2 separate regions of the Homo sapiens genome follow, and region 2 is linked to region 1. The links come from fine-mapping of genetic effects on gene expression. Tissue or cell type: whole blood. Region 1 holds a variant in brackets; the other region holds the start of a gene. All regions are shown on one strand. Distances are from middle to middle.

Region 1 (8,244 bases):
TTAAAACCCCTGAAAGGAAAATGGCTTTAATTCAGAAACTGGCTTGTGGAGTGGTGGTGGGGCAGCGGCGAGGCAGGGTTGATACAACGGCAACTGGAGGAAGAAGTTACTGTGAGGGGAGGCCCACCCGCATCCGGTGCCCCAGTGGACTGGTGCCACCTCAGCTGGCATGACACCTGCTAGAGCTGTGGGTATTTCTCCTATTCAGGAGCTCTGGGTCTGTTGATGCCCGCATATGTGAATTGGGCCCCAGGGCTCTATGCCACGGCCTGGAAGAGGCTTCATGTCAGAACTTGATGGATGGGGGTGGGATGGGGGTGGGAGGGAGGTGGGGCAGGCACTATGCCAGGAAAGGTCAACAGAGTCTTGTTGTGCCTGGGAGGGAATTTGGACTTTATCCTGAGACAAATGAGGAACTGTTAAAGGGTTTCAGCCAGGAAAAGGCAGGATAATTTTTTTTTTTTTCTGATAGAGTCTTGCTCGGTCACCCAGGCTGAAGTGCAGTGGTGCAATCGTAGCTCACTGCAGCCTCTGCCTCCTGGGCTCAAGTGATCCTCCAGCCTCAGCTTCTCGAATAGCTGGGACCACAGGTGCATGCCCCCACGTCTGGTTTATTTTTTATTAATATTGTTTTGTAAAGATAGGGTCTCACTGAGTGCCCAGTCTAGTCTCAAACTCCTGGTCTCAAGCAATCCTCCTGCTTCTACCTCCCACAGTACTGGGATTACAGGTATGAGCCACTGCAGCCTGCCCAGGATAAGATTTGACTGAGAAAATACATAATGAAAAAATGCTGGGCACAGTAAAACTTCAGTGACTCATTTAAAGGAAGCTATACTGTATTCATCCCATCAGCAGCTACATAGATTATGACAATGTCCATATGTAGGCAAAAGATATTTTCATTCTACAGACAATACTTAGGACATGTAAGGATTTAGGAACATTTGGCAAAGACTCTGTGCCCTAACCCCCCACTCCCCTAGGACTCAAGACTTACGGGTTAGGCATTGCTGATCCAGTTAATGGCAATGCTAAATTGTTCTTTTTTTTTTTTTTTTTTTTTGAGATGGAGTTTCGCTCTTGTCATCCACCCAGGCTGGAGTGCAGTGGCGCGATCTTGGCTCACTGCAACCTCCACCTCCCGGGTTCAAGCAATTCTCCTGCCTCAGTCTCCGGAGTAGCTGGGATTACAGATGCCTGCCACCACGCCTAGCTAATTTTTTGTATTTTCACCATGTTGGCCAGGCTGGTCTCGAACTTGTGACCTCATGTGATCCACTCTCCTCAGCCTCCCAGAGTGCTGGAATTACAGGTGTGAGCCAGTACCCCCAGCCTGAACTGCTCTTTTTGACAGCAATAAACAAGTTCAGCTTCATCCTTCCTTAGGTTGGTAAGACCGTGTCTCCAACATCAAGGGAAAGCATGCCTTCCTATTTGTTATAAGGGACCCACAACCAAGTTGCCATTTAAATATATGTGAAAAACAAAAGAGGATCTAATACCCAACATGCATTTATACTATTTAGGACTGTTAGCAAGACTCTATTGCCCATGTGATTTTATAAATAGTATTATGACAACAGTTTTGAATGTGTCTGACTGCACATTGACTCATTTAATCCTCACAACGTCTGCTGGGGTAGGTGCTGTTATTGCAGTTGGCATAAACTACAATTAATTATGTAATTTCTTGTTGAATATTCATGTTCTGTGATCAGTTCCATGAGAGCGGGAAGCTCGTCTTGTTTATCCTTGTATCCCTGGTGCCTACAACAGGGCCTGGTATGTGGCAAGCATTCAAAACGTATTTACTGAATAAATTTCGTATTCCCCTTTACAAGTGAGGACAGAAAGGCTTAGAGATGTTAAATAGCTTACCAACCTTTAGGTCACCAGCTAATCCAAACTCACATCTGTTGAACTTTATCTTCTTACCAGCTCTCAAGTAGTCTAAGGTTTTATAAAGATCACATAGCTTGGTCGAGTTCCTAGCTATTAAGTAGAAAGTTATTGAGAGATTAACAAACACTTTTTTAAAGATTCTTCCTTTGTTTTTAACCATTCTGAAAACATAAAACAGAATTCAGAGGAGAGCAGTAGTGGAATGGTTATGTTTAAACTTGCCATGTTTCATAAAGACATTACATTGAGAAATTCACACCTGGCATTTGAGAACAAAAGCTGGCGTAGAACTTGGAGGAAGTATTATTAGGAATTCACCCAACTAAATCTTCCTAAGCTTATTATCTATAAAGCTCATGTTTTATTAAAATATAGCTCATATGGCTTTATAGCTCTTTCTCCTCAACTGAAATCTTTGGTGGGGTGGGGGGCGGCCTCCAGTTTTCATAGGCCACCTGGTATTGATCATTCTTACCTTACTTGGTTAAAACAGTTGGCCAAGGAAGCCTAGGTCCTGATCCCAGCCCCTTCACCATACCCAGCCCTGCCTCGGTACAAATTTCCTTACAAAATGCCCAATACTCCAAGGCCTCTGGAAGAAGCATGGGAAACTAAGATTACTGTTTTCCATAGGAAAGGTATTGAAGTAACTTTCACAAGCTACCTATGGTAAAAGAGGGAATATAAAGATTTGGAGAAAGGGCTCTAGTGGGAGTAAGTGACAAGTCCTGGCCTATTCCCATTCCATCCCATTTCTAGGCAGGAGTCTAGCCAAGCTGCCAATCGGGCCCCCGCCAGACAAGACAAGAGCAACTGATGTGTGAACATGCAGGTGTTACCCTGCCCAAGAGATGAGCCCAGACCTTGTCTTGTCTCTGGGTTCCATCACCCCGAGTGTGAAGAGAATGGGGAACTCCAAGAAACCAGCCTGAGACTTCATACCTTCTCTCTCACTGCAATGTGGGCAGAGGCCCATGTGCAAAGGTCTCAGGAACTTGAATTCCCTGTAGTTTTAGTAACTAATGTTGGTATAGATTTTGATGGTACAACATTTTTTCACATGCATCTTTCCACTGAGGTTGATATACAAATATTACCGTCCCCAAATTAGAGATGAACAAAGAGATTTCATTACTTGTCTAAAGCTGTATCACTCCCTGCATATCCAGCCTCCTGGTGGACTACTGTTCAGTCATGAGTTTGGGTTTTCTCCCTCTTCAAATCAATCATCTGTGACTTTTACATCACTAGTGCTCAATCTTTGGTGGACGCTACGTAGAGAATCTAAGCAACACTTTGGGTTGTCTTTCCAGAAAAAAAGCACATCTATACACACACACACACACACACACACACACACACACACACATCTGTTAGCTCTCAGGACTTTTGGTGATCCCCTGGCGACCATGGACACAGGGCTGAGAATTCTTCTTTTATAAATAATGTATGTGAGACCAAAGGGACATAATAACCAAGCACAATGTGTAAACCATGATTGAATCCTAGTTCAAAAATTCAGCTATGGAACACATTTCAGGGACCACCATAGAAATGTGAATATGGTATATATATTAGGTTTCACTATGGAATTTTCTCAGGTGACTTAAGGGTAATTTTCTTTGATGTGATAATAGTGTTTATTATCAGAATATCCTGATTTTTAGGAGATGCCTAAGTATTTTGGGGTGAAGTAATATGAAGTTCTCAACATATTTTCAAATGGTTCAGAAAAAATATAGAAAGAAACAAGATTGAACCACATGAAAGTTGCCTACATATATTATGTATATATTTATATTTATATATATATATATATTTATATTTATATATATATATATATATATATATTTTTTTTTTTTTTTTTTTTTTTTTTGCGGGGGATGGAGTTTCGCTCTTATTGTCCAGGCTGGAGTACAATGGCAGGATCTCAGCTCACTGCAACCTCCGCCTCCTGGGTTCAAGCGATTCTCTTGCCTCAGCCTCTCGAGTAGCTGGGATTACAGGCATGCACCACCATGCCCGGGGAATTCTGTGTTTTTAGTAGAGACAGGGTTTCTCTATGTTGGTCAGGCTGCTCTTTAGCTCCCAACCTCAGGTGATCCACCCACCTCGGCCTCCCAAAGTGCTGGGATTATAGGCATGAGCCACTGTGCCCGGCCGATTTAACCTAATTTATAAAGGAAATA[T/C]TGTAAACTATTAAAAGTAGTTTAATCTGGGTGGTGGTATATGGATGTTAATTAAAAAGTTATTTTAACTTTTCTGTGCATTAGAAAATGTTGCATGATACATAAATTTTCATAATAAAATGTGGGGGGAATAGTTTCTGTTTCTTTGTGATAGCTCTCAAATCTGCCACTATATTAGTTACCTATTGTGGTGGAACATAAAAAATTACCCCAAAATTTAGTGGTTTAAAACTACAAACATTTCTGGGTATAATCAAAAGAATTGAGAGCAGGGACTCAAAGAGACATCACACACTCATATATTCATAGCATCATTATTCACAATGTGCAAGAGAGGGAAGGAACCCAAGTGTACCTCCACAGATGAGTGGATAAAGAAAATGTGGTATATACATACAATCAAATACTATTCAGCCATAAAAAGGAACAAAATTCTGACATGTGCTACAATCTGAATGAACCCTGTAGATAAGCCAAGTCACAAAAAGACTAATGCTATATGATTCTATTTATATGAGACAGCTAGAGTAGACACATTCATAGGGACAGAGAGTAGAATGGTCGTTGTCAACAGATGGGGAAGGGGAAACGGGCAGCTATTTTTTAATGGGTAGAGTTTCAGTTGGTAAAGATGAAAAAGTTCTGGAGGTAGATGATGGTGATAGTTGCACAGCAATGTGAATGTATTTAAACCACTGAACTGTGCACTTAACAGTTGTTCAAATGGGCCAGGCACAGCTAGGTGTGGTAGCTCGTGCCTGTAATTCCAGCACTTTTGGAGACCTAAGCGGGAAGATCACTGAGGCCAGGAGTTCAAGACCAGCTTGGGAAACATAGTGAGACCCCATGTTTACAAAAATTAAAATTAAAAAATTAGCTGGGCTTGCTGGCATGCACCTGTAGTCCTGGCTACTCAGGAGACTGAGATGAGAAGATCACTTGAGCCCAGGAGTTAGTGAGCTATGATCATGCTACTGTATTCCAGCCTGGGAGCCTAGGCAACAGAGCAAGTGCATTCCAGCCTGGATGACAGAGCAAGACCCCAGCTCAAACAAACACACACCACCACCAACAACAAAAAACCAAGAAGCCTCAAAATTCCCATCTAGTTACTACATATAGGTCAAAGTTCAGTATCTTTGGGTGGCACAAAGGTCTTCTGAGCTGGTGACTTATAAACTAAAAGACAATCCATCCAAAATAGGGACTGAGAAGAATAGGTTAACATGATTACAGCTCTCATTCGGCAAACGGAGGAGTGGGAAGCATGCAGTTATCACTGCACCAAGTCCAGCTGGGGAGGAGTGGAGGCTTCTAGCCACTGGTGTCACTGGCACCTTGGGTTCTTGTAATCCTCCCAGGATAGAAATAAAGAGAGATCACCAGACACAGCAGCAAAGAAAAAGTTTATTTTAGCTTGTGCACAAGGGAGCCAGCAACAAGAAAGGAGAAGGCACAGGCTCCTCCCCAAGGGTAGTCTGTGGGTTAGTCTTTCTATAAGGAAGGGTCACGTCAGGGCATGTAGAGGAGGGATTTTTCTAGTGCTTGTGCAGTGCTAAACATGCTTCTTCATACATTGTATGTAGCATTAGCATTTTAAATCTCTACCCCTGGGCATTATTTTTAGCATTAAAATAAGAAACAGGTAACTATAGGTTGTAGTTTAAGTCTAACGGCACATACAGGGCCCCAGAGAAATCCCTAGCCCCCTGAAATAGGAGCTTGTGATTAAGGGTTAATGGCTTCTTGAATCTTTTGTTACTGATTGGCTGAGAGTTAGATAAGCTAGAGCTTGAGTGAGAAGCTGTTGTTTGTTTGTTTGTGTTTGTTTGTGTGTTTGTTTTGTAGGGACAGGGTCTCACTAGGTTGCCCAGTCTGGCTTTGAACTCCAGCAATCCTCTGGCTGAGGCCTCCCAAAGTGCTGGGATTACAGGGACCAGTCGCCACACCTGGCCCATGAGACAAGGGCTTTTACCCTCTTCCTCCAGACCATCTTAAAAGAGAGAACCAACCAGCTTGCCTGTCCACTGGCAGTGGGGTAAGCTGCCTGGTAGCCCATCTGGCAGCCCCAGGTTCTCCCATCTGGGAGAAACAACCTAGTCTATCATCCTTTGTGGCCATGCCTCTGCCTTCTCTGAGGTTCCTCCCTGTCCCTTGTGCCCCATGGCCACATCTGAGTGGGCATGGAAAGTATGCTTCTTGGAGCTGCACAGCGTTTACACTCTGTTTACTGCTGGTGCCGATTTAGGGCCTGGGGTATGCTTTAGGGAGCTGAACTGCCACAGATTGTGGCGGACCAGTCTTGAAATTTCTTTGGCAGTCTTGAGATTTATCAAGCTGTACTCTATGGCTTGTGGGCTTTCATGTAAAGATGTTATAATTCAATAAATAATTTAAGCAGAGTGTGTCTTGGAAGCAATGGAATACAGTATGTCAAGGGAATGGCCGAGCGTGGTGGCTCACACTTATAATCCCAGCACTTTGGGAGGCCAAGGCAGGTAGATCACTTGGGGTCAGGAGTTCGAGATCAGCCTGGCCAACATGGTGAAACCCCGTTTCTACTAAAAAAAAATACAAAAATTAGCCAGGCATGGTCGTGGGCACCTGTAGTCCCAGCTACTTGGGAGGCTGAGGTGGGAGAATCACTTGAACCTGGGAGGCAGAGATTGCAGTGAGCCAAAATTGTGCCATGGCATTCCAGCCAGGTGACAGAGTGAGACCTTGTCTCAAAACAAACAAGCAAACAAACAAACAAACAAACAAACAGCATATGAAGAGGAGACAGATGGGCAGAGCAGAGACAGCAACTGCCAGATGAGGGTCTCTAGGGTTAAAACAAATAATCTTGGTTCCAAGCGGAAGCAAAAAGTTTGGGAGCCCAGTCAGTTTTCAAGGAAACTCTTGTTGTGTGTGGTTGTTGTGTGTGCTAAAAACTACATTATTTTAAAACCATCAAAACTAATCTATAATGTTAGAAGTCAGGAAAGTGATTACCCGTGAAGGAAGTAGTGACTAGAAGGCTTATGTTATGGCTGATGTTATGTTTCTTGATCACATGGTGTGATCACTTCATGAAATTTTATCAAGCTGTACTCTATGATTTATGTGTTTTCATGTACATATATCATCCATATTTTTGTGTGTGACTGTGATTTATTTATTCTTATTGCTGTCTAGTATTGCATCATGTTAATATTACCACAAATTATGGATCCATTCCACTGTTTGATGGGTGTTTGGGGTAGTCACCAGTTTAATAAATAGCGCTGCTATGAATATTTTCAGGTTTGTCTGTTGATGAATTTATGTACATGTTTCTGTTGGGTATTGTTCCAGCTACCTATTGCTGCATGACAAAGTGTTCCAAAATGTAATGGCGCCAAACAACACTCATTTTATTATACCCATGGGCTCTGTGGGTGAGGAACTTGAACGGGGCATGGAAGGTATGGTTTGCTCTGCTCCACCTTGCCTGGGGCCTCAGTTGGGAAACCCAGGTGGCTGGGGGTGACTTAAATGGCCAGGGCTGGAGTCATGTGGAGACTTCTTGCTCACAAATCTGGTGTCTGGGCTGGAATAACTCGAAGCCTGCACTCACCTGAGACTAAACCTCAGGGTCTCTCTCCCCAGCCTGCCCCTGTGACTTAGGCATCCTCACAGCAGGGTGGCCTTGATGTGGTCAGACTTCCTACCTGGAGGGTCAGGAATGTAACAGCAAGTATTCTAGAAAGAAAACAGGCCGGGTGCGGTGGCTCACGCCTGTAATCCCAGCACTTTGGGAGGCCGAGGCAGGTGGATCACCTGAGGTCAGGAGTTCGAGACCAGCCTGGCCAACATGGTGAAAACCCTTCTCTACCAAAAATATAAAAAAATTAGCTGGGCATGGCAGTGGGCGCCTGTAAACAAAACTGCACATACCCAGCACTGTAATTTCTGGGCCACAAAATTTCACATGCTCAGCTTTAGTGCTGCCAATCAATTTTACAAAGCAATTATATCGGCGTTACCGCCGTGAGCAGTGTGTGAGCATTTTGGTTGGACTACATTCCTTCGTTTTTCATTTTAGCTATTCTGGTGGCTGTGCAGTAGCAGCACACTGTGACCTTAATTTGCATTTCCTTTGGATTTTCCTGATGCCTAATGATACAAG
Region 2 (6,405 bases), 280 kb after region 1:
CCTTTGAGGAACGCACAAGCCCAGGAGTTCCAACAGGGCTGCAGTGGAGGCTAAGTTGCAGCAGGACTTTTGAGCAAGCATGCACACAGGCCAGCAAGAGCAATTGGAGGCTATGGTGAGCAGGGAAGGTTCGCGGGAGGAGGGGGACCGGAGCTGTTCATCGAAGGGTGAGGAAGAGTGTGCGTTGCAAAGGGGAGCCGTGGGAGACCTGGGAGCAAAGGCCAGAACTTTAGGGTTCGAGGCTGAGCAGGGAAACGACAGGAGAATGAGGGCTCCTCTTTGGCAGCACACACCTGGTCTCCAGGACAGAGATAAGGTGCAGGAATATGCAGGTGTCCAGGGAAGACGATGTCTCCGGGAGCACATGCTTTATGATGCTGGCACCCACCTTGGTGGCAAAATGAGATTTTGCATTTACTATATTCAGAAAACTGCATGCCTCAGTGTGTGTGTGTGTGTGTGTCTATGTTTGAAGTCTTATGTCAAAGTCCTTTGACATCCATCTCTTTGTCCTTTCCCAGCTACCCTGAGAAGGTTGGCTGGAAATATCCTCAAAGACAGAAAAGAGTGACGGTGGGAGGAAACGTCTTGCTCGTGGTCATGGGGTTCCGTCGTTGACAAACCAAGGCTCAACCGGGGCTGCTGGCTGGAGCTCCATGCTCCTGCCCCCAAAGCTATGCCCAGATCCCCATCCCACCTCCCAGCACCCTGCGTGCCATCTGCCTCCTCCACCCCTAGGCATTCTCCCATGGAGGAGAGAAGCACTCCACTCTGTGTGAGCCCTTGTGTTTTCATCAGAGTTCAAGGCCAGGGTCAAGGGTCCATCTTCTCCCAAACCACCTTGCTGGCTTTTAGTGTCCACCTTCCTTAAGGAGTAACAGTCACAGAGAAGGGACCAGCAAGGAGTGAAGCCCTGTTCTGAGCCTCGGAAGGGAGCGGCTGGGAAGCAGTCCTCTGGCAAGGACATCTGAGGGCCTACTAGTTTGACCCCTTCTTTCCAGAATCTCCAGTGGAATGGCACTGATGACTGAGGGTCTGGGGGGTCTACCTCTGCCCCTTGCCAATAACCGTGGGCACCTGCAAAGCTCTCACCTGGTGCCAGGCACTGCTCTGAGTGCCTTGCGCATACACGCTTTTCACACCGCCTGGGGAGGAAGGTACGATTATGACCCTCGTTTTACAGGTGAGGAAAGGGAGGCACAGAGAGGTTAAGTGACTTTCCCAAGGTCATTCAGTGAGTGGCAGAGCTGGGGTTTGAGCCCAGGAAATCTGCCTCAAGTAGCTGTTTTGCCTCAATAAATAATACTAACAACAACCACAGCTACCATTTGACGACCCGTTCCTATGTGCCTAGTGCTTTAATTCCTCAGAGCAATGCTGTGACTTAGGCGTTGTTCTCCGAATTTCTCATTTCACAGATGAGTAAATCCCGGTTTAGCAGGGCGCCTGGAGTGAGGTGACTGCGGAGGCTCGCAGACGTTAGGTCTGCCTAAATCCGAAGCTTCCACCCTCCTCTGCCTCTGTGACTTGCTGCGTGACTTTGGAGCTTTCGGAAACTCAGTTTCCCTGTCTTAAGCCCTCTGCTCCTCTTGCTTTCCCGCTCCAGCAAGTGAGAGTGGACTGGGTTGCCGTGCCGGGCGGGTGTGGGTCGCCGGGCAACTCCGGAGTCTCCCCTTCCCCATCGGCCCCCAGCAGAAGTCCCAGCTCCCGGCGTTTTCTGTCTCGTGGCGAGTTGGGGCGGAGGGAGCGGCGGGAAGGTGCCGGGTGGGCAAGGTCGGAGCTGCGTCACCGAGAGGCCGGCAAGGCCAGGGAGAAAAGGCCCCGCTGTGATTTGGGGAAGGGCCGGGGGCCCATAAGTCACGTGCTCGGGGCGGTTGTGCAGGAGCGGACTGTCCTCTGGGAACATAGAAGCGCCCCCGACTAGAGTAGGGGCGGGGAGGGAGCGCCGGAGGAGGCAGGTTCTGGGCCAAGGGGATGGGGGTGGGGGGGAGGTAGGGAGCCCGCGGACAAAGGAGGCGGCCGGCGGCCCAGCTGTTTTGAAAAATGCTTCCTGTTTCTTTAAAGGCGCTCGCGGCTCGGGCGGCCCGGGCTGGGGAGGCGGTGGCGGCGGGAGCTGCCTCCTCTCCGGGCGGCGGCGCTGACTGATCTCGCGAACTGGGCTTCTGTGTAAACTGAGGCTAAACAAACACAGATGGAGCGCAGCGGGCGTTCTCCAGAAATGCTGGCAAGGAGGCAGCGACTTCAGATGACACTCTGAGCGCTCCGGGAACGGACAGCCCGGCGGCTTCCCGAAGCCGGCGGCGCAGCTGCCCGGGGCGAGGGGGAGAAAGGGAGAGAGGGAGGGGGAGGGCGGGCGAAGCGGGAGAGCCAGAGACTCCTCGGCGCTGAGCGCGGCGGCGGCCCGGGCAGCCCCACGCCCCTGCCTCGCGCGCCGCCCGCGCCATGAAGCACATCCCGGTCCTCGAGGACGGGCCGTGGAAGACCGTGTGCGTGAAGGAGCTGAACGGCCTTAAGAAGCTCAAGCGGAAAGGCAAGGAGCCGGCGCGGCGCGCGAACGGCTATAAAACTTTCCGACTGGACTTGGAAGCGCCCGAGCCCCGCGCCGTAGCCACCAACGGGCTGCGGGACAGGACCCATCGGCTGCAGCCGGTCCCGGTACCGGTGCCGGTGCCAGTCCCAGTGGCGCCGGCCGTTCCCCCAAGAGGGGGCACGGACACAGCCGGGGAGCGCGGGGGCTCTCGGGCGCCCGAGGTCTCCGACGCGCGGAAACGCTGCTTCGCCCTAGGCGCAGTGGGGCCAGGACTCCCCACGCCGCCGCCGCCGCCGCCTCCTGCGCCCCAGAGCCAGGCACCTGGGGGCCCAGAGGCACAGCCTTTCCGGGAGCCGGGTCTGCGTCCTCGCATCTTGCTGTGCGCACCGCCCGCGCGCCCCGCGCCGTCAGCACCCCCAGCACCGCCAGCGCCCCCGGAGTCCACTGTGCGCCCTGCGCCCCCGACGCGCCCCGGGGAAAGTTCCTACTCGTCAATTTCACACGTAATTTACAATAACCACCAGGATTCCTCCGCGTCGCCTAGGAAACGACCGGGCGAAGCGACTGCCGCCTCCTCCGAGATCAAAGCCCTGCAGCAGACCCGGAGGCTCCTGGCGAACGCCAGGGAGCGGACGCGGGTGCACACCATCAGCGCAGCCTTCGAGGCGCTCAGGAAGCAGGTACCCGCTCGCCGCCGCACGCCCTCACTGCGCCGGGGGACGACTGCGGGAATGGGTGGGCGAGTGGCCGGGGCGGGATAGAGGTGTGTTTAAGGGGCAAGCTGCCCCGCCCGGTCCGACCCTGGTGCCCAGACAGGTGTGGGCAGTCCTAGGGTATGGATCATAGTTTTCAAAGTGGCTATAAGAGTTGGTTATCTCTGGCCCGAGCACCCCCCGCCCTCAACCCCCGCCTCGGGGGTAACGCTGTCTGCGCTTCTGACTTCAGCCTCCATAGTTCACTTTTATGGCAGCGAGTATTTGCCTGCCGGAGTCCCCTGGGCGCGGTGCGGAGTGGAGAGGGGAAATGTGGGAATCTGTCAGCGGAGGAAGGGGGGAGCCTTCTCCAGTTGGTGGTGGCAAGGTCCGGAACGCTGCGGTGGGACAGTCCGGGGGAGTTGTCAGCCCCTCTTCAGGCCCCAGCGGTGATGCCCCGAACACTCAGGTTGCTTCCGGGCTATGCACTCCTTGCCCTGGCATCCTCAAGAACCCGCGCTACAAGCCTGTGCCCTCTCCCCAGGGGTGGGCTCAGGAATCGGCTGGTGGGAGTCTTTCTAGCAGATCCCTTCCTTTCACCCGTGGTGAAGCAGGCAGCTCTGCCGAGGGGACTGCCTAGGTTGGGGATTCCCTCTGGAGCATCTTCAGAGCCTAGTTCTGGGGTGGGTCCGGGACTTTTTAGTTTGGGGCTGGTGCGGGCTGCCCTCACCAGACAGTGCCCCTGCGCAGGTAGCGGAAGAATACTTAACCCAAGAATTACCCGTGGTGGGGCGGGACAATCGCTTGGGCTTCTAGGCTTCTTATTTTCTTAGCGAGAAGGAGCTCTAGGAAGGAGGTGGTGAGTTCTCTCCCACCCCCACACAGGGCGTGGGGAAGGGTTAGGGTAGATGTGGCTGGTTTGAAGGGTGTTTTTTTTTTCTTTTTATTTGCATACTCTGCAGCTGACTTGCTGTGTGACTCCAGGAATGTTGCTCAACTTCTCTGGGCTTTATCCAGCAACAAAACATTTCAGAAACCATGATCTTCTTTTTGGATCACTCTCCTCTTCCTGCTGGGGGTTGGGGTGGGGTGGGGCAGTAGTGCCTGTGTCCATCCATGGAAAGGAAATTGAATCCTTGGAGGAAAGAGGCCCTATGACTTTTGAGCCAAAGTGTCTTGCTTGGGCTTGGGGAAAGTGGTCAGTGAGGTGGGGTGGGGGTGGGGGTGGGGGACGGGTGGCTGTCACAGACCAGGCTGGGCCTCTGCCCTCATCCACACCAGCTGGAACCCTGGGCGGTGGGTCCAGTGGAGCAGTCAGTCCCACCCTGAGCCAGCAGCTCTGTGTCTGCATCGCTGGGTAGAGGTGGCGGTGCGTGGGGGATCCTGCAACCCACTCCCCAGGACAGAAGGATAACAGAAGGGCAGAGAGATGCCTGTCCACCTGCCCACCTTGCCACTAGGGAAGCCCCTCCTAGACTGGGGAGGCACGTGCCCAGAGCCTCATAGCTGTTGAGTAGCAGGTCAGGGCTGGCACCTAGGGGCTTTGACTGCAGGTTCTGGGCCCTTGTGCTCCTCTATTGCCTCTGTATGCTGAGAGAATACTCATCTGAGTGCTTTGTTACATCTCATGTGCCCACTGACTTTTACTTCATTCAACAATCAATTCCATCTCATTTGATCTAAACATAATCCCTGTCGAAATTGGATTAACTCATTTTATAGTATGGAACACTGAGGCCCAGAGATGGAAGGAGACTTGTCCAAGGTCACCTAGTGGGTTAGGGAAGATAACAGCAGTTTCTGGAATGCCCTCCTGGCCAAATGCTTCCCACAGTGCCATCTGTATCAGCGTCATGTGCCACCCCCCCAGCCCCCAGCCTGTGATGTTTGTTAACAATCAAGGCAGGGTGCACACTTGGCAGACCCTTTGAGATGAGATTGTTCATCCTGGTCTCCTTTTACTTCCCCCCTTACCGTGGGAAGTTCTCTATAAAAAGGGCAAGTTCAGTGTATCTAAGTAGAAGGCACACCCATGCCCTCTCAGGGAGAGCGTGTGTATGCAATGCAAACACACAGGCAGGTACACACACACATGCTCCTTACACGTGCTCAAGAGCACACACAAATGCATGGTCACAGAAGCACCTGTTCCTGTTTGTTTCCTCCTTGCCCTAGCCATTCTGCCCCTTCCCCAGAAAGGCTGCCAGGCCATAGTGGGCACCTGCCTGTTAGCTGGGAAGGAAAGAAATACAGCCAGGACGTTTCTGGTCATAGAACCAGGGGCCAAGGCCACACCCACCATGTCCTCCTCACCACCATGGCACCCATTCGATAGAGGAAGTCCTGTGTTCTGGAGGAGCCCCTTCCTCCTCTGGGCCTCAGTCTTCTCTGTAAAATGTACTCCGCACCCCCTCCCCGAATCCAGACGAGCTGCAGCTCTGGAGCTAGGCTCGGGCCTGACTGAAATGGGTCCTTGGAAATGGACAAAAGGCAGATCAGCTCCGCCTGAAATGGGGCCTTGGCCAGTGTGGCACTGAGATGGGTTCTGGGATTGTGGCTCTGGCCTGGGGCTTCATTCTCCTGAGCAGCTTCCTGGTACCATGAAAGAAGCACTGATCTGGGAAACTGGAGGCCAGGCATTGAGTTGTTCCTCCCCTGCATGCCTTCTGTGTGGCTGTGGACAAGTCACTGACCCTTTCTGGGCCTCAGTTGCTGAAGTTGTAAAATGGTAATATTGCTGACCTCATCCAGTGTTGAGAAGAGAAAGTGAGGAAAGGTAGGAGGCCTATAAGAGCAGTGAACATTTCTTTCATTTCATTTTTTTTTTTTTTTTTGAGACAGAGTCTCTTTCTGTTGACCAGGCTGGAGTACAGTGGTGTGATCTCAGCTCACTGCAAACTCCACCTCCCAGGTTCAAGTGATTCTTCTGCCTCAGCCTCCCGAGTAGCTGGGATTACAGGTGCGCACCACCACACCTGGGTAATTTTTTGTATTTTAGTAGGGATGGGGGTTTCACCATGTTGCCCAGGCTGGCCTCGAACTCCTGGGCTGAGGTGATCCACCCACCTCTGTCTCCCAAAGTGCTAGGATTACGGGCATGAGCCACTGTGCACAGCCAGAGCACTGAACATTTCTTAAGCATCTCCAAGGTCCTCAGGGCTGGGCAAGGCTCTCGACAGATGA

The links. PIP is the estimated chance that this variant, and not a neighbour inherited with it, causes the effect.
Region 2: ATOH8 starts here. The variant in region 1 is fine-mapped to the expression of ATOH8 in whole blood (GTEx, PIP 0.99).

Annotation. Positions count from the first base shown.
Region 1 is chr2:85,470,834-85,479,077 of GRCh38, forward strand. No RefSeq gene overlaps it. Among named protein-coding and RNA genes, the nearest start is that of SH2D6, 56 kb to the left of the region's middle. The variant T/C (reference allele first, on the strand shown) is at 4,095.
Region 2 is chr2:85,751,748-85,758,152 of GRCh38, forward strand. ATOH8 (atonal bHLH transcription factor 8) reads left to right here and starts at 2,244. Exons shown (of 3, transcript NM_032827.7): 1 at 2,244-3,210. The coding sequence starts at 2,443.